3 separate regions of the Homo sapiens genome follow, and regions 2 and 3 are each linked to region 1. The links come from fine-mapping of genetic effects on gene expression. A gene starts in region 1. Each other region holds a variant in brackets. All regions are shown on one strand. Distances are between the middles of the regions. Region 1 holds the start of IL18RAP (interleukin 18 receptor accessory protein). Region 2 overlaps IL18R1 (interleukin 18 receptor 1). Region 3 has its middle 13 kb from the start of SLC9A4.

Region 1 (8,000 bases):
TACATGTATGCAACGAAATACTATTCAGCCTTTACAAAAGGAAATTCAATCATGTGGGAGAACACGAATAAACTTGGAAGCTATGCTAAGTGAAATAAGCCGGGCACAGAAAGACAAATGCTGCAAGAGCTCACTCATATATAGAACCTTAAAAAGTTGAACTCATAGAAGTAGAGAATAGAATGATGATTATGGAGGCTTGATTGGTGGGGAGAAGAGGGTGAATGGGGAGATACTGGTCAAAGAGTACAAAGTTTCAGATAGATGGGAGGAGTTAAGTTTTCAGGCATATTTCACAGCAAGATAACTATAGCCAATAATATTGTATTGCACATTTCAAAATAACTAAGAGAGTAAGTTTCAAATGTCTGTCCACAAAAAAAGTAAGCAAGGTGATGGATGTGTTAATTAGCTTGAGTTAATCACTCCACATTGTATACATATATCAAAACATCACATCAATACTTTTTTTTGCATGTGGTATGAGATACAATTTCATTCTTCTCCCTGTAGATAACCAGTTTTCCTAACACCACTTATTGGAGAGGTAATCCTTTCCCCATTGTGAGTTCTTGGCATCTTTTTTTAAAATCTATTGACCATTAAATGTATTGTATATATTTAATCTATTGTAAATGTATACAATTATGATTTGTTAATTAAAAATAATTTTAAAATAAAGAAGTTGAAAAAAATTTAAACAATCTGCAAGCCTGTTCTTAATTCGCCAATTAAAAATATTGTGGAATGCTCCAGAGACTCCAAGCCCAGGGATTTATTTCAGTTGTATACTCTGTATATCTGGTGGGTGTATCCCTGGTCAGCAGTTTTATTTGAATTCAGTAAAGCCATGTTTTCATTCTCTCAGCCAGTGCCAGCTTCACCTATTCAGAGATGGGTCGTAGGTATGACTTACCCACCACCTGAGAACCTGGGGGTTAGCATGAAGGAAAAAGGCATTAGGTGTTTTTTCCTGCCTAATGCCATCACTTTTAGTGATGTACTACTGCCATAAGGTCTGTGATTTCCAGGTTACTATGTGCCTTTATATGCATGTGTATGTGTGAGTGCACACACACATATGTGTAATTCACAAAACCAGGACCTGTCCAAATCTGTATCAGAGGTACAATTTTCATAACAGCCATTGTTCACCTATTCTTAAGGTGGCTGCCTGTTCACCATTAAACACATGTTGACGTTTGCAGTCAAAGCCCCAGGGAAGTGAAACAAAGCTTCCTTTTGTGAATGTCATACAGTTTTAGGGTTTAGTTTATAAAAGCAATATTTGCAGAAAGCTGGCTACTATTATGCAACTTGTGCTCACCTGAAAAGTAAAAATTCATAGCTTTCACTTCAGGTGTATGATCATTGAAAAGCCAAACACATTTTCATCTGAAATAACGGGGACAAGACTGCTTTACAGGCCTGAGAACAGCCCACCAAGACAACAAGACAGCTGCCATCCTGGATGACGGATACTTTGAACCAAAGGAAGTTTTGTTCTTGAGAGAGAACTGAAAATAATGAACAAAACTATTGGCTCTTCTTACTAACCTCATTTTAAAGGTTATGAAATGAATGTTTCTGAAATTAGGGTTTTATTGAGACCAGCATTCTTTCAGTGTCATATAAAAACACAAATTTGAGACCATACCCCATGCCGTTCGTCCACCCTGTATATTTATTTCTGTAAAGGATGTGATAACATCTGTCTTCCTATTAGCCTGGAGTCTCAGGAATCAAGTAGGGAAATGTTTCCTCTTACCATGGTAACTGTATCCCCAGGAGACTCTCATTCTTAAAATTTGGGGTGCATTAAACCATTAGATAACTCATCTTTCTGATTTTAATCAGTAGCAATTTAGAATGATATTTTTATATTAACAAACACATATATTATGAGGTTGAATACAAAATTCTGCATAACTTTGAAGACAAAGTATTGAACTTCAAATAGTTATTGCAATTGTAGGAAGTGATTTAGATTCTATTCCTGGATTCCACCACCCAAGAATCAACTGACAGGGGGCTCTTTTGGAGGAGATGGTTAGGCAGCATTTCATCATCTGCTAGCACTTGGAAACACTATCAAACACGATGGAAACATGAAGTGCTTTTGTTATGGGAGTTCACGTACATGTGGTTCATAGCTAAAAGTCATTGTGAAACTTGCTCTTGTTCCCTTTTTCTATTTGCACTGTACTCCTTTCCACCATCTCACCTGTGCAAGACATCTGTCACTCAGGCCCACCTTGGATTCGTCCTAACTGTCCTCCAAGAGCTGTCTTTTGGGAATGTATTTCAGGCTCCTGTAACTTTCACAAACCCTTCAAGACTTATGTGTTGAGTCCTCCCTTCCCCTTTGCAATGCCTGTTGCTTTCCTAAGACAGTGAAAATGAGTGAACCTATCTTCCTACATTAGCAGATGTTAGTAGGTTTATGTCTAACCTCATGTGTAATATACTTGAATTTTAGAAGTTTCTCTGGTGTTGATCAAAAGGATGCCTCTAATAATTAGAATATCAAGCTCTGTGGCTTCCCAGGGAACATGATTATTTTAGAAAGTCAGATCTCCTGCAGAGGCACAGGGCCAGTTTTTGAGAAGCTGTATACCTCAGATTCTCAAACACGCTTTTCCATGAAAAGCCCATGAAGAAGATACCATAAAAACAATGCTCTTATATTAATTTTAGAGAATTCACTCTTACCTTGTACCAGGTTACCGCTGGACTTTGTGCATCACTTTGGCAGCTGAGACTGGGGCAAGAAATAGAGCCAGTGCTCCCAAGAAGTAGGTCTTGCTTATGTGATGCGGAATACTCACAGGATGCATTTGTCTGGGGCTTAACTTCTAAAATCATCTTGACACAACAGGCTACATCATAGGGGCTCCTAGGAAATTAACAAGATCCTGTGAACATAGATATTTTGTCTAGATAATAGAGGATTTGGAAATGTTTTCAGATAGAAATGTATTTGGATCATACTTAATCATCTTGGGTCTACAAATATATGACCCAGAATTATTCACCCCTGGGGTCAAAAAGTGAAGGGTACATTTGTCCTGAATGATGTGAGGATAGCTTTTCCTAATGTCCTCTAATGGATCTCCATTCGAAGGTTGTTGGTACCATTGGACATCAGATAGGTCGTTACTACCCATGAAGGGCAGGTGCTCAGGGACTTGTTTTGGTGAGAGTCGATTTCTGTGGCAGAAATGTGATTTCTGTGGCTCTGGTAAATCACAAAATAAGACAAATTCCTCTTCACTCCTTGTAGAATATGTCCAAAGGAGTTTTTTTGTGGAACAACCTGAAAATCATAATAAACAAAGCACATGGAAACACATTAGAAAATGGAATTCTAGCTTATATTTACATCTAGTACTTGATTTAACAAGAGATCTAGCTTCCTTGTGTGTCTTTCTTCTTCACTGTCTATTTTGTAGGGGAAAGGAAGTGCCTGTTCTAATTCCCTCCCAGTGGACTCCAGCATACCAGCAGCAGCCCTGGTTTCCTGGAAAAGATGGTAGAACTCTGGCTCATCCCTCGTCAGCTGATCTCACTGAACACTCAACTACAGTAACAGGGTACCTCGACAATGCTTGGTATCAGCTGAAAGCTGTTCACCCTAATAATTCTCCTCTCAGTCCCCTTTTAATAGTAGGATGGAAAGGTTTGTATTAATATATCACACTGCTGATATATCAGGTTATCCATCACTTTACACTTGACCACAGACTCACAGTGCTAACATGAAAAGTGAAAACCCCTACCTGAAATATTAAATCCTTTAATTCGCTCTCCTGCAACAAGCCAAAGAAATATCCAGCCCAAACAGAGCATTGTTCTCCCGTGTTCCTGTCATCACTCCAATAACTTCATTCCTTTGCCAGAGTAGAGTGTTTTGAGATTCAGAACTCTGCCCTGAGTATCCCCTTCATTTCTGTAAATCAAGAAATGGGAAATGAAGAAGTCAGAACCAGTGAACAAAGTGCATCTCACACAGGAAGCTTTGAAAGGGCAGGTCCTACCCAAACCGGCCTTCACTTGCCTATAACTTACGTGAGTATTTCCAATGGTGTGTAGCAACCTTTTCACTTGTGTCATTTCTTACAAATCATCTCAAGCTCCCAATATCCCTAGGCTCTATGCAGTGTGTTCTTTTAATGCCATTTTTCCCCTCATTAATCTTTTTTCTTTGATGTGCTCACCTAGCATGTGTATTTCCATGAGTAATTTGAAAAGAGTTATGTTTAACTTTTCCTGAAAAAATGACCCAAGTTGAATAAAACTGTCAGATTTTTCACGGTTAGGAAAGCTAGAGATATAGCTCCTATTTATAAAATTTGAGAATGTTTGCATATACTAGTCTATTCTATTAGAGAATAGAGGCCACCTACCTCTCCCTGCCCCACATGCAAGAGGGAAAATTGTCACTGGATGGCACCACTATCAACTCTCAAATATGAAAGGGGGAGCAGGTCCCCTCCAGAGAATCAGATCTGGGCTGTGTCCAAAGGACTTGAGTCCCCTCTCTTGATAAGGCAGTCATGGGACCTTTCAAACCACTTACTTGAAATATCTTGGGGATCCAGCTGGAGCATTCCCAGGGCAGAGGGGTGGGGAGGCATATGGCTCAGAGCAGGGTCTCAGTTTCAGCAGCTGGAGGGAGCCTGGGGCATCTGTAACAAGCCTGGATTGTTTCTGTTGCCCCATAAGGGAGGGCAGATGAACTTCCCTGAGGAACCTCAACCTTTAAAAGTAGGCCAGGGCTAATGGAAAATAAAGAATGACAAACCTAAAAGGAATGCAAGGAGCAGAGCAGAGAGACCACCTTGGCAATCCAGACAGAGAAAGCTTGGAGGAGAGACTAGACATCAGTTTCAGAAGCTGCAGAGGAGTTGGGCATGAGAAGGACTGAAAAGTGTCCACCAAAGAGTCTTGGTTTGGCCACCAAAAGCTCAGCATGTGCAGCTGGGGTGAGATAACGGAGAGCTTCAGGGTGGAGAGAGAGGAGTAGAGGGAATGTGGGAAGCGGGGAAGAACCACGCCTGCTAGAGTCTGCATGATGCAGGAAGACAGGAGGAAGTGTTTGCTCATTTCTGGAGATGAGAGGGCCTTGGGTAGGATTCCACTGCGAGGGGAATGCGTCAGCAGGTCAGTGAGGACAAATACAAGTGAGAGTGAGGAGAGGGTGCATGGACTGCTTTCTCCCAGGAAGCCAGAAGAAGTGGGGTCCCTGATACCATGGGGAGATTAATCTTGGACAAGAGGCAGGTAGAACCATGCAGGTGAAAAGGAAAGTCTGCCCAGACCACTTTGTCCAGGTGGAGCCAGAAAGTACAGGAAAGTACAGGATGCTACCACCTGGCTGCTGATGCTGACCTGGCTGTCTGCTGAGAGCAAGGCGTGTTCATGGAAGAAAGAAAGGGGGTTCTGTGCAATGCGCCTTGCAGAATGCCACGGATAGGTGTTAAGGTCACTGCATTATCCCCATTGCTGACAACTGACAGCTCTTCTTACAAGGACTGCAACCAAGGAACAAGGCAGGATCAGCAATGGCCTTTAAAGATGTGGTCTCCCCACTTGCCTTTCCCTTGTCCACAAAGTCTCCGAAAGAACAGTCCTCCAACTCCACCACCAGACACATCTTCCTAAGCAGCAAGCCTGGGCATTTCATTTCCATGCCCAAAACGTCACCGGCTCCCACCACCCATGTGATGAAGCACAGATTCCAGAGCACCATGGACAAAATGCTGTAGCGTTTGGCTCTCTCATGTCTTCCCTGATTTCTTCCTCAGAGAGTCGTTCCCTGACCACCTGGATAAAGAAGCGCCCTCTCCCTTCTTGCCATCAACCATCTCTCTTGCTACTCATTTTAAATGACTTTTGTCTTAGCACATATTATTGTCTGAAAATATCTTACTCCTAAAACTTCTCCCCAACTAGAATATAAGTTCCATCCCAGCAGGAACTGAGTTTGTCTTTCTGAGTCCTGCAGCCTCTCTGCAGGAATAGTGCCTAGCTGATAACAGGAGCTCAGTAATGACTTGTTCAGGATTTAACCATGCTGCAGTAGATCAGTTGTTCCTTACACCTTGTCCTCCCACTAGATTGGGAGCTCCTGAAGAGCAGATATCCCATTTCAGAAATCATATATCCTGATCCTAGGAGAGTGCCAAATGAACAATTAGTAATAAATTCTGTGTTCTGAAAAAATGATAAACACTTCCAGAGCCATCAGAACAAACACATAGCAATCTATTATGGTGATTCACATACTGTGTGGCTCCAATTAAGTCACTTAGGCTCTTTTTGGACCTCAGCTTTCTTACCTGCAAAATAAAATGTCTGGACTGTATCAGTAGTTCCTCCACCTTAGAATGAGGGAATCAGAATTTCTGATGTTTAAGTCGGGATATTTGTAATTTTTAAAAAAGCTCCCTGACTTGTAAATCATAAGATCAGATGGTTGCTAAGATCCTCCCAGCTCTACCATCCCGCAATTTATGTCTAAATGTCCAAGCCTATAGCAAATTAGTTACCACGATGCCCAGCAGTCTCCAGCACTCAGGAATGTCCGCCAACCTTGAGATGACAGATACTGCCTACTGATGCACCCACCCACCAACTGGCCTCAGACCTCCAGCTGCCTGGGGCTGATTGCAGGCTGCAGCTATCACTCTGGGACAGTGTTTCTCAAATCATCTTGATTATAAGAATCACCCGAAACCCTTATTACAAATGCAGATTTTTGGGCTTCCTGAGGACTTATTAAATCAGATTCTCAAGGAGAAGAACAATGGAACCTACATTATAAACAAGTGTCAGAGCCACCACGCTCATCTGGGAGACACTTTTGGGAAACCCTGCTCAGGGATAAGCATAGAGCTTGGGGAGGTGGGTTAGTGCTGAGTTACAGTAGCTGTTGCCAGCATTGTAGGCAACTGACCAACATGAGCCCAAGACCATTCTGGAAGTCTCATTTATGTGGGACAACACACCCACACTGTGTGGCTTGCTTGTTAATATCTACCTTTTGAAGGCCATCTAATGTCTAAGTGATGTCTTCCATGCTGCCGTCACTAAAATGCTTCACCGAATCGGAAGGAGCCACCAAAATGCAGAGTACATCATTTATTGAGCACTGGGCAACTTAAGCCAAAGCAAGCTTCAGACTCTGCTTATGGGAATAAAATAATGTGGCACTCATTTACTTTCTGTAAAGTGAAGCGGGGTGCTGTCTTTCTCATATTACAGATGGACAACCAAGGCTCACATTGCTTGGAATGGCAGTGCCCATTCTCAATGATAATCACATACCTGGTAAGTATTAGAAGGGGGATTCATATCCAGGTGTAGAGGGTCTCAAAGCTTCTGATTTCCCCATCACCATATGTTGTCCTTCACAGAAGGAATTGAGAGCCCAACAGCGCTGGGAGAATCTACAGAATCGCTTCTTTATCAATTTTCCAGATGCGTTTTTTGAGAATCACATATGTTTTTTCAGAGGATGAAGATTTCCCTTTCAGTTGGTCAAGGCTACACCTTCAGCTGTCTCTGGCAGAAATAATGAACTAAACTTTACCCACAAAACTTTTTGGTGAGAAACGGGGGAGAGAGAGGAAAGTGCTGGAGAAAGCAGTGTCAACAGGGATCTGAGACCCAGGGAGAGAAATGTCACCATCAAAGGCAGACTTAAACTACTTTACACAGAGAACACCTGCAGACAGAGATTTGGTCTCGTGTAATAGTGACAGTATTTAATTTAACTAATATCATTATGATTCTCAGATGCTCCATGGTGGCTTTAGACCCCATTGTCTAGGGATAACAGAAAATGAAGCTGTAGTACCTGCCATCAAAGATGTTACAGTTAAGTTTAAATGGGCATTCAAATTTGGCAAATATCTTGAATCTCTCTGCTCTTAGCCCTTCCTGTAAAATGCTCAAAGCACTTTAAACGGGTTTATTTTATAACCATCAGTTTTTTT
Region 2 (8,000 bases), 49 kb after region 1:
AGTCCTGAGAGACTCAGTTGACATTCTCCAAGAAGACAAGAAAAATAAGATGGACAATTATGGGAGAAGAATAGCTTGTGCTGCAGGTGAGGTTTGGGAACCTAGCAGTGGGAGATGGTCATTACAGCAGAACTCTTACTGTCCCTAGAGCCATCCTAGAGCTGTACACACACTCACTCAGTCATTGTCAGCCAACCCTACGAGGGATGAACCATTACTGTCCCATTTCATGATGAGGAATCTGAGGCAGAGAGGAACTAAGGAAATTAACTCACCCAAGGCCACAGTCTCACAGAGCTGTTGTGAGGATTATATGACATGATTCAACTCCAGTACTTGGCACTATCCCTGGCCCATAACAAGCACCCTTTTAATAATGGATATTCCTACAGCTTCATCAAAGAAGGAAGGAAAGAGCTGCTGATGGGCAGAAAGCAAAGATGGTGGGAAAGAGGGTGTAGGTTCTGAAAGTATCAAAGTAACAGAGATTTATATGAGATTAAAAATAGATGTAGGAAAGTAAAGTTGGAGAGTTTAGGGTAGATGATTATACACAGAATTTAAGTTTTTGAGTTTAAAATTCAGTTATGGGTTTCCCAGGTTCTGGGCTGTGGCAGGCAGAATAATAGACCCTGAAGTTTCCCACATCCTACTCCTGAGTTCCTGTGAATACGATATGTTACATGGCAAAAGGAACCTCTAGGTGTGATTAAATTAAGGATCTTGAGATAGGGGGATCACCCTGGATTATCTAGGTGGGCACAATGCTGTCTCAAGGTCCTCATCAGAGGGAGACAGAAAGGTCAGAGTCAAAAAGGAGATGAGGTGAGGGAAGCAAATGTGTTTGGCTCTGAAATGAAGTGGCACAAGCCAAGAAATGCAAGTGGTCTCTAGAAGCTGGAGAAAGCAAAGGCAAAGAAACACATTTTCCAGCCTGGTGCAGTGGCTTATGCCTGTAATCCCAGTACTTTGGGAGACCAAGGCAGGGGGATCACGAGGTCAGGAGATCGAGACCATCCTGGCTAACACGGTGAAACCCCGTCTCTACTAAAAAAAATATAAAAATTAGCCGGGAGTGGTGGCGGGTGCCTGTAGTCCCAGCTACTCGGGAGGCTGAGGCAGGAGAATGGTGTGAACCCAGGAGGCGGAGCTTGCAGTGAGCCCCAAGGCTGCGCCACTGCACTGCAGCCTAGGCAACAGAGCAAGACTCCATCTCAAAAATATAAAATAAATAAAAAAATAAAAGAAACGCATTTTCCCCTACAGCCTCCAGAAGTAAAGCAATTCTGGCAAAACCTTGATTTTACCGAAGACACTAAACTTGGGATAATTTGTTACTGTGGCAACATGTGGGTGTATATAGCTATATGGTTGTAGTGAAGAAGAAAGATGTTGCTAAAGCAAAGGCTGTAGCAAATGTGAGCCCACAGATTTTGTTGAACAAGCCACCCACACAAGTGTTACAGTTTCCAGTTTCTCAGGATGATGGGGAAAAAAATCCAGACTGGATAAGCAACCTGTCTTCAAATCACGAAAGGAGCTGTCATTTTAAGAAGGAGCCAGATTTAATCTGTGAAATTCTTGAAGGCAAATCAAAATCAGTGGTTGGAAGCTACGAGAAGGGATATTTGGACTCAATGGAAAAAAAAGACTTCAACAATCAGATATTAAAATCTGGACTACACTGCTGTGTGATTTGGTCATTTCCTTGATAGTTCCCAAGAAGGGACTGGATGATCAATCATTGGCTGTGCCTTATGATGAATATCTTCACTGGGTGAGGTTTAATTAAATACCTTTAATGTCCCAGGATTCTGTTCCTCCATCACACACAGCCTGGGTCCATCATCCCTCCCCTCCCACCAGCACATCAGTGTTCCTTACACTCTCCCAGTGGAGATCCCTTCCCCCAGCAGGTCACTGTTTCATGAGGCTCCCCCTCCAAGACCCAGGTCAAATGGAGCCTCCTGCATCTGTCCTTCCTCCAACCTCCCCCTGCACTCTTGCAGCCTCACAGATGATGCTGTTTCATACACCTTTATGTAGCTTATTGCCTCTCCTGATTAGAATCAAATCCCTTGAGAATAGTACAGTGCTCACTTCATCTCATACTTCCTTGCTTCCCTGCCTCCTTGTGCTAAGTACAGTTTATTGAGTATAGATATCTTCACTAAATACTTGTAAAGTGAAAATGTAAATTCAACAACAAAAGATTCCACAATTTACTCAAATTTCATATATAAGAGAGAGCTGACTCATGTGAGGTTTATTCATACAGATTTTCATTTCCTGCCAAAAAGAAAGGTTTATTTAGCCAAGTAGAGGAGCACCAGAATGAAGATTTTGACCATCATATTTGAACTAGTGGTGTGGTCACAACCCCAACTAAGTGGACTCTCAATTCCTACACAGTTTTGAAGAATGAAAAAATTCCATTTTACTAAAATACGTCTGTTTCTTCCCAATTCTAAGATTTCCCTTACCTTCCACTATTGTTATATTGAAGGTTTTGGTGATATTAAATAGTTTTCCATTATGATGAAGGAAATGCACGCAGGAGTAATACCCCTGATCTTCAAACTCGGCGTTCTTCTTTATCGTTGGGTTTTTATTGTTCTCCAGTAGTAGCTTTTTACAGTTCTGTTTTTAATAAAACAAGTTAAAATACTTTAAGTAAAAGCCAAATTGATATTACAGTGATCCAAATTTTTGAGTTAAAGATCTTTAGAGAAAAAGGAAAAAAGAATGGAAAGTAGCAATTCCTGGACATATGTCCCAGTTACTTGGTACTACTTTTACTGAAACAATTAAATGCGATCCCATTGCTGTTGGCATGATTATCATTATTAATATATGCTGGGAAGTAGAGCATGGGGCAATATGAGCACTGTAGCTGCTTTCATCAATATTCTTTCATCTCTCTCTTTTACACACATGCAGAGAGAGAGAAACAGCGAGAGACAGAGAGAGAGAGAGAACACTACTTCAAAAACCCTTGCTTGAGTCACAACTCTATTTCATACATGTTCAGTCCAATTTTGTGTATTCTGGACTATGCATCCAAGGGGTGGATAGTGGGATGGGTGGAGAATTACTCAGAGAATGAGTAGCTAGCAGACCACCCACACCTTTGACACCCTCCATCAGAAGCCAGCGAGCTGATTAGAAATGCATCAGCAATATTCAAATCCATAGGTACACTCAAACATCTCTCTCTCTCTCACACACATTTCCATACATGTCACAGGAATTAATACTAATTGTAATAAAGCCACTTTCTTCAATCCAGCACATCTGACACCCAGAGGTAGGTCCCAGAGCCATGCAGGGACCACATGGGATGTCTGGGGGCTGAATGGCCATCCTTGACCATTGGACACTGTTTCTGCAAACACCAAGCAAGGAGAACCTACTGCCCACAGACTTCTCCCTCAGAGCTGGCAGCCACTGGGGCTAGACCCATTGTGCATAGAATGTGCCCGTGAAGCACCCACATGTGTACCTCACGTCAGTAAATTATTTATGTATAAGTCAAAATTTTATAAAGCCAAACTAATTTTTTCAAGCTATAGAAAAGATCAGAGACTCTTCATTTTCCTTTCCAATCAATTATCTACTGAATTAGCCTCCTTGCTCT[C/T]GGGTGAAGTCATGATCAGTCAACAGGCTTAGAATACTTAGCCCTGTGGTCAATTGTTTAGCTAAATATCCTTGGTGCACCAATGCTCATAATTTAAATAGCTGCACTTTGGAATTTCATTTTTTTTTTTTTGAGACGGAGTATCGCTCTCTCCCCTAGGCTGGAGTGCAGTGGCCCAGTCTCGGCTCGCTGCAACCTCTGCCTCCCGGGTTCAAGTGATTCTCCTTCCTCAGCCTCCCGAGCAGTTGGGACTACAGGCATGTGCCACCACACCCAGCTAATTTTTTGTATTTTTAGTAGAGACGGGGTTTCATCATATTAGCCAGCATGGTCTCGATCACCTGACCTAATAATCCGCCCACCTCAGCCTCACAAAGTGCTGGGATTACAGGTGTGAGCCACTGCACCCGAACGGAATTTCTTAAAACTCAGCACACCAAGCCTCACTAATTTACATATACTGTAACACATTTGTACATTGATGGGAAATAGAATAAAGTCAACTCAGGACTGATTCGAGTGTTTAGAAAACATTTCAGATAAGAGCTGTCTTTGGAAATCACAAGTAAACAGTGTTCAAGCATAAGGCACAAACAAAAATTTCAAGGATATTATCATCACTCGCTTCAGATTTCCCAAGTTCTGTTCAGACCACTCTCTTATAGGTCTTTAAAGTTTCCACGACAGAGTCATATTATTCAGATTTGTTATTCCATATAAACTACATCAGCTGTCCCCAACCGTTTTGACACAGAGACTGATTTCATGAATGACAACTTTTCCATGGACCAGGGTGGGCAGGGGTTGAGCGGGGAATGGTTGGTTTGGGGATGATTCAGGCGCATTACATTTATTGTGCACTTTATTTCTATTGTTATTACACTGTAATATATAATGAGATAATTATACAACTCACCATAATGTAGAATCAGTGGAGCCCTGAGCTTGTTTTCCTGCAAATAGGTGGTCCTATCTGGGGGTGATGGGAGACAGTGACAGATCATCAGGCATTAGATTCTCATAAGGAGCATGCAACATAGATTCCTCGCATGCACAGTTCACAATAGGGTTCTTACTCCTGTGAGAGTCTAATGCAGCTGCGGATCTCACAGGAGGTGGTAATGTTAGTGAGGGGGAGTGGCATGGGGATTGGGGACCCCTGAACTACACAATTTGTGTTGCGTATGTGTGTGGATGGGAGTGCGTATGTTTTTTATGCATACACACACTACACTCACACACGCTATGTATGTGTATATATAATTCCTATAGCGTGGTCTAAAAGAGCTTTTTTTTTTATTATACTTTAAGTTCTGGGGTATATGTGGAGAATGTGCAGGTTTGTTACATAGGTATACACGTGCCATGGTGGTTTGCTGAACCCATCAATTTGTCATCTACATTAGGTATTTCTCCTAATGCTATACATCCCCTACCCTCCCACCCCACACAACAGGCCCCGGTGTGTGATGTTCCCCTCCCTGTGTCCATGTGTTCTCATTGTTCACCTCCCACTTATGAGTGAGAACATGCAGTGTTTGGTTTTCTATTCCTGTGTTAGTTTTCTGAGAATGATGGTTTCCAGCTTCATCCATGTCCCTACAAAAGACATGAACTCATGCTTTTTTATGGCTGTATAGTATTCCATGGTGTATAAGAGCTTTTAAAATTCAACAGGTAAAAGGTATACCAACTGAAGAAAACAGAAAAAAATAAACAGGCAACCCACAAAATTGCCTGATTGCAGTAAGATGCAATAAATATATACAAAAGTTTAATTTATTACTAAGAAAAGTGAAAAAACCACTAGGAGTTTTAGAAATTTTTCATATCAAATTTTAAACATTCTGGGACCATTATTTCCCTGTGTTGTGGAGGTGACAAAAAATTGGGATTCTTTTTTCAAGTGTGGGGTAAAATTGGCAGAGCTCCCTGGAGACAAGTTTGATAGTGTGAGGAAAAAGACATAAAAACATGCTCACAGCCTCTGATCCAGTAATTCTACATTTAGGGATTTGGTTGAAGGACAAATCATATAAACACCCAAGGATTTGTGGAAATGGTATTCATTTTAGCCTTTAAATAATAGTGAAAAATAGGCAATTCACAAATGTCCAATAACAATGGGATTAGTTAGACGAAACAAGGGGGTTAGTTAGATGAAACCAGGCACATAAAAACTGAAAGCCCATGTTTAGAAGATCATTTAAAGATGTGAAGGGATAGTCACAACGTAATTCTTAGAGGAAAAAACATAAAAAAATAAAATATACCACTTTTAAAAAGCAGATGCTTCACAGAAAAAAAAAGTCTGTGATGGATTTATGAGTGATTTTTGCTTTCTTCATTTTTCAGTTTTAAAGTTAAAATATTATAAAAGCATTACCATTTCCAATTTTATAAAATGAACTAATATATTCAGAAAAACATATACAATTGAGTTTTACATGTTAAGTACATGTGACAGGAGAAAATGGAAATCCTTAAACTAGCATTCCTAAAAACTAACTTATCGAAAGAGAAGGAAAATGAAGGAAGAGTGTGGGAGAAGAAACTGTGATCATTTATTGAACACCAAATCCAGGGAAACTACTGTGGAACATATTTTAATACTATGTATCAGCTCTTGACAACAAGCCAGTGAGGATACTTGGCTCAAACAGGGCAAGTGAGCCATGTGGGATCAGGCAGCTTATTTGTTATGAGACCAGAATGGTAGCTCTCAGCCCCTCATTTGGGAATTTTATCTTTTCCATCAAGTCTTAAAGTTAAAATATTATAAAAGCATTACCTTATACAATGATGTGCTGTTGACCAGTGTTTGATAGTAACTGTTTTCACAGGTTATCTGAAAAAATTTTTTAACTTCCACAATTTTACTAGTTACTTGTCTTTCAGTGAAACAGCTGTGTTTATTTCTTCTGATGACATTTAATTTCCATTTCTGAGTATAATTTCTATGGAATAAAAGTGTAAAGGTATTTTATAATGCTACAGAAACTTTGCAAATATCACCCATCTTCCCTTTAGTAACCAGTTACAATATTTTTCCTTTATTTTTATTAAAGAGATTGATTCATTGATGTGCAAACCCTGCTCTGCCTCCGCTTGATTCAGAAGAGCAAGAACTTTAAAAACTGTCATGGGAGCAGGGGGTAATAAATGAAAACCTAAGCAGTCTACACACAGAGACACACACATGCACACGCACACACGCACATATCCTACTGCAGACAATATATTATGGATGTCAGAAAAGCAAATCTTTACAATGTCAGTGATCTTCACTGATGGATAAGTTCAGAGAGTCTTGGCCCAGGATGGGAGGGTGGCTTTGGTTTCAAAAGGTCTATAAACTCCTGATGTTGTTTTCTAAATGTGTGTATATATATATTAGGTTTTGTTTCTCAAGGCAACTTCTTCCAATCCCCTTCTTTTACTGTTGAATAAACCAAAGTCTGGAGTTGCTGCCCTCAGTGTAATTGAATTAGCTCTTTAAATGCCTTACTGACCAAAAGTGAGTGTGAATAGATTTTATAGTTGTTGTTACTCCTGATCAGAAATTAGTGATCAGGACTATCACTAGGCCAGGTGCAGTGGCTCACACCTGTAATCCCAGCACTTTGGGAGGCCAAGGCAGGTGGATCACCTGAGGTCAGGAGTTTGAGACCAGCCTGGCCAATGTGGTGAAACTCCGTCTCTACTAAAACTACAAAAATTAGCTGGGTACGGTAATCCCAGCTACTCGGGAAGCTGAGGCAGGAGGCGGAGGTTGCAGTGAGTGGAGATCGCGCCATTGCACTCCAGCCTGGGTAACAAGAGCGAAATTCCATCTCAAAAAAACAACAACAACAACAACAAAAAAAGGTGATCTGGAATTGGAAAACAATACAGTATTTTTTAAATGAAGATTTTAAAGAGAAAATGTTTCAAATTTCATGTTTGCTTCCACTGCACCTGTGATGTATAGATTTATTTGCTAAATACAGCAGATGCGTGTTTTTAAGTTATCCTCTATGCCTGACACATTTGTGCCCACCTTAGGCTCTTCCAGTTCCCCTTTAGGTCTACAATAGGATAGAAGGAAGAAAAGACTAACACTTACTGAGTTCCAGGTATTAGACTATGTACATGCAAGGGAGATGACTATTTTCCTTAGGCTCAGATGAGAATGCTAAATCTCAGACAGGTTAAACAACTCACTCAGGCCACACACTTGCTACAAGATGGGGCCAGGATACAAATGCACATCTATTTGGCCCCAGAGGCCAGAAGTGCTCTGCACAATTCTACACTTTCACAATCCAATGAATCTGGCCCCTTCACCTTGGGCATGAATTTATAAAAGATTGGCCGTGACTGG
Region 3 (8,358 bases), 37 kb before region 1:
GTTGAAGGTGGCCTGCCGCAGTGGCTCACACCTGTAATCCCAGCCCTTTGGGAGCTGAGGCGGGTGGATCATGAGGTCAGGAGTTCGAGACCAGCCTGACCAACATGGTGAAACGCCGTCTCTACTAAAAATACAAAAATTAACTGGGCATGGTGGTACGCATCTGTAATCCCAGCTACTCCAGAGGCTGAGGCAGGAGAATCACTTGAACCCGAGAGGCAGAGGGTTGCAGCGAGCCGAGATCGCACCACTGCACTTCAGCCTGGGCGACGGAGTGAGACTCTGTCTCAAAAAAAAAAAAAAGAAAGAAAGAAAGAAAAAAAACTGTTGGTAAGAGCGCCTACTGGAATAAGTTGTCAATACCTGTTGTGCAAGTCTAGGAGTGGGGTGCGAAGGATTCTTCATTAGGATCTTCACTTGTGTGGTGGTACACAAAGAGCTCAGTTCAGTTGAGCAATGATTGCCTGAACTGCCTTGTCACAGGCACATAGTGCAGAATCAAAAGGCAAGAAGTAGGAATTATGCGGGGAAATGAGACAGAACAACATAGAGGGAAATCAGGATGCTGTCCACCAAAAGAGAACTGTTTCAGTGTGAATTTCTTAACTCTGAAAACCATGACAGTTTCAGATGAGAAAACCCTCAGAACACTCTGAGACGTTAAGAAAGAGAACAAAAAAGACTCAACTTTTTTTGTCAGTTAGGACACTTTAAACTCCGCAACAATAATAAATCATCTAGAAACTTCAGTGGCTGAACATAGGTAGTTTACTTTGTACCCACATTATAGTTTCAATGTGGATAAGGAACACCTTTATCATGTGGGCATGCCAGCTCAAGCATGTAGCCTCCAAGGTCACAATGGGCAAGACAGAGTGTGCAAAAGTTATATCTGCATTGCCTCAGTCTAGAAATCACCCTATCACATCCACTCTACTTCTAGAAAATATTAGTCACGTGTCCCAAACCAACTACAAAGAAGGCTGGGAAAAGTGGCTGTGTGTTCAGAAAAACAAAATGATTTTGGTGAACACGTAACATTTTCTCTGTCACATCGCTGCAGTTAGCTCTAGTTAAAGTACAATTGCGTACATGATCATCCATCCGTAACTGAGTGGTTGATTTGTAAATAGCTTCTTATGAGATCTGATCAGTTGAAGCAAATGCGACCTTAAAAAATGTAGTGAGGCAATGGTGGGAGAAGAGCAACGCCATTTTCTGCAGATATCTTAGTAAATTCAGCCTGTTCAATTATCCAGTTACAGATGTGGGGCTTATGAAAAACTCCTAGACGTGAAATGAACCAGAATACAAAGGTAAGAAAAGCCAGTAAGTGATATTTAACTGTGCCAAGTTCTGGTCAGAGACTTTCCTGTATATAGTTGGCTTTTTAAAGGGCACAGAAACTTACCTGGGGGTGGTACAATCAGAGGTTAAATGGGGCGTTTTTCAGTTGACCTTGAATTTTGGCAAAGGTAACAAATTTAAGGACTTAGAGTGGCAAGTGCACTCTCAGTTCAAACAGAGATGTTAGACAAAACCCCTGCAGGACTTGCTAAGGGTAGCCAAACTGGTCCAGCACTCGCATCCCCAGAGACCTATGTAAAAGACCCTACAGCCCCCCAATTAGAGAGCTCCAAGGTCACAACTCATAGATGCGAGGCTTTCTGCCAGCGGGGAAGACTGACATTTCACCCCTGCTAAAGCTGTACAGAGCTGAGTTCTCATCCCCACAGAATCTATGTAATTGGAATGTAGACAAGTAAAAAAAGTCTTGAAAGAGTTTATAATCTTTTCTTTGGGTTTCAAAAATCAGACTGGTGCCTGATCCTCGGCAGGATATCATTGACAATGGCAGATCAGCTGGAACAAATGCAGTTGGAGAGCAAGGAAAGAGAGGGAAGCCTGGGAGCAATGGTGGGGAAAGTGGGCATCCAATTCCCCATGAACCAGGTGAATGCTGTGCAGAATAACCAGGTTAGAGTCACATTGGAAGAATGGACCATTAGGGGCTTTACTGCATGGGGCAGAAGACGAGGTGGAGACAGAGAAGGTATCACCTTCATCAGGTGCACCAGGAGCAGTGGACATCTTGGTAGGGTTAGGGAGAATGGGTTTACATTTTTATTTTTAAATTAACATACAATAAAATTAGCTTGTTTGATTTACAGTTGTGTGCATTTAAATACGGATGTAAATTCACATAATCACCAAGACAATCAGGTTACATGCTCTTTCTTTGAGACCCGCCCTCCTCCATCCCTAACTCCTGGAAACCAATAATCTGTTCTGTCACTGTTTTGACTTTTTGAAAATGTCATAGAAATGGAATCATGTAACCTTTAGAGATAAGCTTTTTCTACCCAGCATACTGCATTGAGATTTATCCAAGCTGGTGCATGTCTCAGTGGTGAATTCCTTTGTATTGCTGAGAAGTATTTCATGGTTTGCTTGTACAACTATTTGTTAATTAATTCACCCTATACCAGTTATCAATTTATCACCAGTTATCAATGTATTACCTCACAGCTCTGAATTCACCATTCAGTACCTGCTGTGTGTAATGGATTGAATTTTTGAAGCATTCATCCTATACAGTGAGCATAGTATTCACCTCTTTGGTACAGGGAGTTGGACAAGCATTACAGGAGGGTCCGTCTGGTTCCAGCTGCTGTGTTCTGTTTTTTTTTCTCACTTGTGCTGCACCATCAGGCAGCAGTGTGTGTGTGTAGACATCTGTTGGTGCTCTGCACTAGCTATATCCAGAGGAAGCCGTTGCTCAGTGACCTCGCAGTACTAGCTTAGGCCAGGTGACCACCTCCCAATATCTTCCTGATGTGGACACTGTGCACTCCAGGCCGCATGCCCACAGTGGCATTCTGAATGCCCTGTGTACCCGCATATCAACTACAGCTCGCCTGCATCCTAAAGCAGTCATGGCCTGGCCATGCTGCATGTCTGCCCACCAGCCATGGCTTGACTGCACCTGACAGGTTTGCTTCCAGCTTTCCCAGCAACTGTGAACTAGCTCTGACCCAGGCACGTAAGAGACCTTCCTTGCCATTCAGTGGGCTACACCACACTGCTTCTAGTGATGTCTGAACCCCAGTCTTGGGGAGGGGACCACTTGCAACTTTGTCTTTCTACTATCTCTCAGCCCTGAGATACTCTTTGGAGTTCTATTCATGTCCTTATAATCAGTCTCTCATCACAGCCAAATAATCATTTATATCATAATATCCCTTTTTAAATTACTACATGATTTCTGTCTTTTGATTGGACTTTAGCTGACACATACTGGTTGAAAGTCCTTGAGTTTTTCTAGGTATTAGTTATTATGAGTAGAGCCACAATAAACATTTGTGTATTGGATTTTGTGTGAACGTAAGTTTTTATTTCTCTGGGGTAAATATCTACAAGTAGGATGTTTTGGGCATCTAGTAAGGAAGTCACATTATAAGGACTTGTTAAATTGTTTTGTAGGGTGGCTGCACTATTTTGCACTCTCACCAGTAGTATATGAGAGTTCTAGTTTCTCTACATCATCACCATTTCGTGTTGTTAGGTTTCTTTTCTTTTTCTCTATGTGCCCCATGGTGTGTGTGTGTGTGTGTTTTCTCCTTGTGGCTTTAATTTCCATTTTCCCAGTGGATGGTGCTGTTGCACATCTTTTTATGTGCCTGTTTGCCATCTGTCTGTCCTCTTTAGCAAAATGTCTATTCAAGTTTTTGCTCCTTTTTTAATTGGTAGCTACTTGTTATTATTGAGTTTAGAGAAATCTTTATAAACTCTCAGCACAAGTCCTTTATTGGACTTGTGATTTTGAAATAATTTTTGTCAATTTAAAGCTTGTTTTTTTTTTTCATCCTTTTAGCAGTGGTTTTCTCGGAAAAAGTGGTTTTAACTTTGTTAAACTCCAACTTTTTTTTTCTCTACGGATCATGCTTTTGGTGTTACATCTAAGAACTCTTTTTCTAATCCTAGGTCATGTTTTCTTCTAACAGTTTTATAGATTTAGGCTTTACATTGAGATCTATGGCCTATTACAAGTTAATTTTGTATAAGCTGTGAGCTTCATCTTATTGCATATGTATGTCCAATTGATGCAAAACCATTTGTTTAAAACTCTATTCTTTATTGAATTGCCTTTGAAAATTTGTCAAAATCAATAGGCCATATTTGTGTGGATGTATTTCTAGACTTTCTACTCAGTTCCATTGATCTATTGCTTTGTTAATATCACACCATTTTGGTTGCTGTAACTTTTTATTGATTCATAAAATCGTCTAGCATGACTCCTCCAACTTTATTTTCTTTTCCAAATAGCTTTGGTTTTTCTAGTTTATTCGCTTTCCCACATATATTTTAGAATTAGTTTGCCTATAATCTACAAAAAATTCTGCTGGAATATCAGTTGGAATTGCGTTAAACCTCTTAATCAATGTAAAGGGGATTGTTGATTTGACAATATGTTGAATCTTTGTATCACCAAACATGCTATGCTTCTCTCTTTATTTAATTGTTCTTTAATTTTGCTCATAAGTATTTCATAGTTTTTAGCTTATGGAACATCCACACATTCTGTTCATTTATACATGAATCTCCCTCCCTCCCTCCCTCCCTCTCTTTCTTTCTTTCTTTCTTTCTTTCTTTCTTTCTTTCTTTCT[CTCTT/T]TCTTTCTTTCTTTCTTTCTCTTTCTTCCTTTCTCTTTCCTTCCTTTCTTTCTTTTTTCTCTCTTTCTTTCTCTCTTATTTCTTTCTCTTTCTTCCTTTCCTTCCCTATCCTTCCTTCTTTCCTTCCTTTCCTCTTTCTTTTTTGACCTATTATAAATGGTAATGTCTGTAACATCTGGTTTTCAATTGTTTCTTAATAGAGATAGAAATACATTTGATTTTTACGTTGTTAATCATGTATCCTAAGAACTTGCTAAACTCACTTATCAGTTCTAGGAATATTTTTATAGCTTTCTTGGATATTCTACATAGAAAATTACTTTTTAGAAAAAAAGGAGAGATTGTTTCTTTCTTTCCAAACTGCATGCATGTTATTTCTTTTCCTCGTCTTATTGCACTGGTGAAAACTTTCATACAAGGTTGTATAGTATTCTGCGAGTAAGTATCCTTGCCTTGCTTCCCATCTTATAGAGAAAACATACATACAGTCTTTCACCATTTAGTATGATTTTTTCATCTATAGTTTGTTTGTTGTTGTTTTTAGAGCCCCTTATCATGATGAGAAAATTCCCTTCTATGCCTAGTTTGCTGAGAGGTTTTATGACGAGACGATGGTGAATTTTGTCAAATATATTTTTGGAATTGGTTCATATGATCATGTCTTTGTTCTTCCTTACACTGTTAATATAAAGAATTACACTGAAATATTTTAAAATATGAAGCCTGCCCTGAATACCCATGATAAGCTCCACTTGGTTGTGATGCATTATTCTATTTATATATTACTAGGTTCAATTTGCTAATATTTTCTTGAGTATTTTTGTGTCAATGTTCATGAAGAATGTTGGTCTATAGTTGTCTTATAATTTTTTTTGTTTGGTTTTGGTATTAGAAAAATTCTGGACTCATAATAATTTGCATAACTTAGGAAATGTTCCTTCTTCTGTTTTCTGAAAAAAATTGTGTAGGATTCACATTTTTTTTTTCCTTTAAATGTTTGATAGAATTAGGCAGTGAAACCATCGGGGTCTGAAGATTTTATTTTTGGAAATTTAATAATAGGAATTAATTTTTTTAACAGTTATGACCAATTAGGTTATTTATTTAATATTGGATAAGTATTTTTAGCTTGTGGTTTTTGAGCATTTATCCATTTCATTTAGGTTGTCAAATATGTATTTATACAGTATCCATAACATTTCCTTATTCGTTTAAGATGTGCAGGATCTGTATTGATATCTCTTATCTCACTACTAATACTGGTAATTTGTGTCTTCCTTCTTCTTCTTTTTTTTTTGGTCAGTCTTGCTAGGAGTTTTTCAGTTTTATTGATGCTCTCGAAGAACCAGGTTCCTGTACTATTGATTTTCTTTATTGTTTTATGTTATTCAATGGCAGTGGTTTCTGCTCTCAAATTTATTATTTTTTTTTGGCTTCCTAAGGTGGAAGTTTAGATTATTAATTTATATATTTTCCTCTTTTAACATAAGTATTTAATATTATATACTTGCCCTTAAGCATGGCTTTAGTCTCATCTTGCAAATTTTGATATGTTGCATTTTCATTTCCATTCATTTGAAAATATCATTTCATTTGCTTTGAGACTTCCATTTTTATCCATAGATTATTGAGAAATGTGTCACTTAATTTCCAAATGTTTTGAGATTTTTCCCACCATCTTTCTCTTAATAATCTCTAGTCTGAATTCATTATAAATCCATTATAAATACAGAATATAACTTTGTACAATTTCAATTTCTAAATTCTTGTTATTGTTTGTTTTACAATCTAGGATACGGTATATCTTAGCACATGGTCGGTGTGTACATCAAAAGATTGTGTATTCTGCAATCATTGGGTGGAACATTCTATAAATGTCAAGTAGATCTAGAAAACAACAATTAAGTAGTGTTGTTCTATATTCTTCTTCTTTTTTTTTCTGAGACGGAGTCTCACTCTGTCACCCAGGCTGGAGTGCAATGGCACGATCCGGCTCACTGCAACCTCTGCTTCCTGGGTTCAGGAGATTCTCCTGCCTCAGCCTCCTGAGTAGCTGGGATTACAAGCACGCGCCACCATGCCTGGCTAATTTTTTGTATTTTTAGTAGAGACGGGGTTTCACCGTGCTGGGCAGGCTGATCTCAAGCTCCTGACCTCGTGATCCGCCCAACTCGGCCTCCCAAAGTGCTGGGATTACAGGCATGAGCCACCACGCGCAGCCTATATTCTTGATAAATTTCTGTTTACCATTTTATCAATACTTGAGAATAATATTCAAGTCTCCAACTACAGTCGTGGATTTGTCTATTTCTTCTTTTAGTTCTGTCAGTTTTGCTTCATGTATTTTGAAGCACTGCTGTTAGGTGCATACACATTTAATTAAGACTGTTATGTCCTGTTGGTAAATTTGTCCTTTTATCATAATGTAATATCTGTTTTTCTCTCTGGTAATTTTCTTTGCTCCAAAGTCTCCTTTAGCTGATGTATTATAGGTACTCCAGGGCCTGACATGGTGGCTCATACCTACAATCCCAGCACTTAGGGAGGCAAAGGCAGGCAGATCACTTGAGCTCAGGAGTTCAAGACCAGCCTGGGCAAGATGGTGAAACTCCATCTCTACAAAAAAAATGTGAAAAAAATTAGCCGGATGTGGTGGCACACATCTGTGGTCCCAGTTACTTGGGGGGCTGAGATGAAAAGATTGCTTGAGCCTGTGAGGTCGAGGCTGCAGTGAGCCATGATACACCACTGTGCTCCAGCCTGGGTGACGGAGGGAGACCCTGTCCCCAAAAAATGTGCATAAATATATATTTATTTATTTAGAAACAAGTAATATATAAATATATTTTTCATATACTATGTATAATATATAATAAATAGTAATTTACATTAACATGTTCATCATATAAAATATATAATATATTTATTAATATATTATTCATTTCTAAAGAATATATAAATAAATAATATATATATAGGCACTCTAGCTTTCTTTTAATTAATGTTCATGTAATTATATCTTATTAACCTACCTACACCATTATACTCAAAGCATTTTTATTGTAAGGGGGTTAAATTTCTTGTTCAGATAAGCTTGCAAAAGACAATGTGCTGAGAATGCAGGACAATGATCAAGATTTCACTAATTTTAAAGACAGCAAATTAGCTGAATCTGGTTCTGATCAAGTCAAATCTGATAAAAGGCTTACTGAAGATGGTTTTAAATAAATTTATAAAAGTTTATTCTAATAATCTCTGTCTTTTAATTATTGTGTTTAGACATTTTACACTTAATGTAATTATTATGATGTTTGGATTTATGTCTACCATTTTGTTATTTGATTTCTATTTATCTTAGTTTTTGTTCCTCTGTTTTTCTCTTCCCTTCTTTTGGATTATTTAAACATTTTGATTATTCCATCAAAACATTTTTATTGTGGAAAGAATGCTCAACATGGGGCCTATCCTCTTAATCAATTTTATGTGTACAATACATTATTGTTGACTATAGGCATAATGTTGTACATTATGTGCTTTTCCATTTCACGTATCTGATATTTTATGCCTATTTATCAATCACTTCCTATTTTCCCCAGCCTCCAGCCACCATTTTAGTCTTTGATTTTATGCATTTGACTATTTTAGATACCTCACATAAATGAAATTATGCAGTATTTGTCTTTCCGT

Evidence for each region. PIP is the estimated chance that this variant, and not a neighbour inherited with it, causes the effect.
Region 2: its variant is fine-mapped to the expression of IL18RAP in whole blood (INTERVAL, PIP above 0.99).
Region 3: its variant is fine-mapped to the expression of IL18RAP in whole blood (INTERVAL, PIP 0.98).

The regions. Positions count from the first base shown.
Region 1 is chr2:102,419,127-102,427,126 of GRCh38, reverse strand. IL18RAP (interleukin 18 receptor accessory protein) reads right to left here and starts at 3,967. Exons shown (of 10, transcript NM_001393487.1): 1 at 3,780-3,967; 2 at 2,992-3,316; 3 at 2,713-2,896. The coding sequence starts at 3,849.
Region 2 is chr2:102,370,547-102,378,546 of GRCh38, reverse strand. IL18R1 (interleukin 18 receptor 1) reads right to left here. Exons shown (of 11, transcript NM_003855.5): 4 at 6,429-6,594; 5 at 2,484-2,640. Among named protein-coding and RNA genes, the nearest start is that of IL18R1, 19 kb to the right of the region's middle. The variant C/T (reference allele first, on the strand shown) is at 3,638.
Region 3 is chr2:102,455,957-102,464,314 of GRCh38, reverse strand. No RefSeq gene overlaps it. Among named protein-coding and RNA genes, the nearest start is that of SLC9A4, 13 kb to the left of the region's middle. The variant CTCTT/T (reference allele first, on the strand shown) is at 4,668.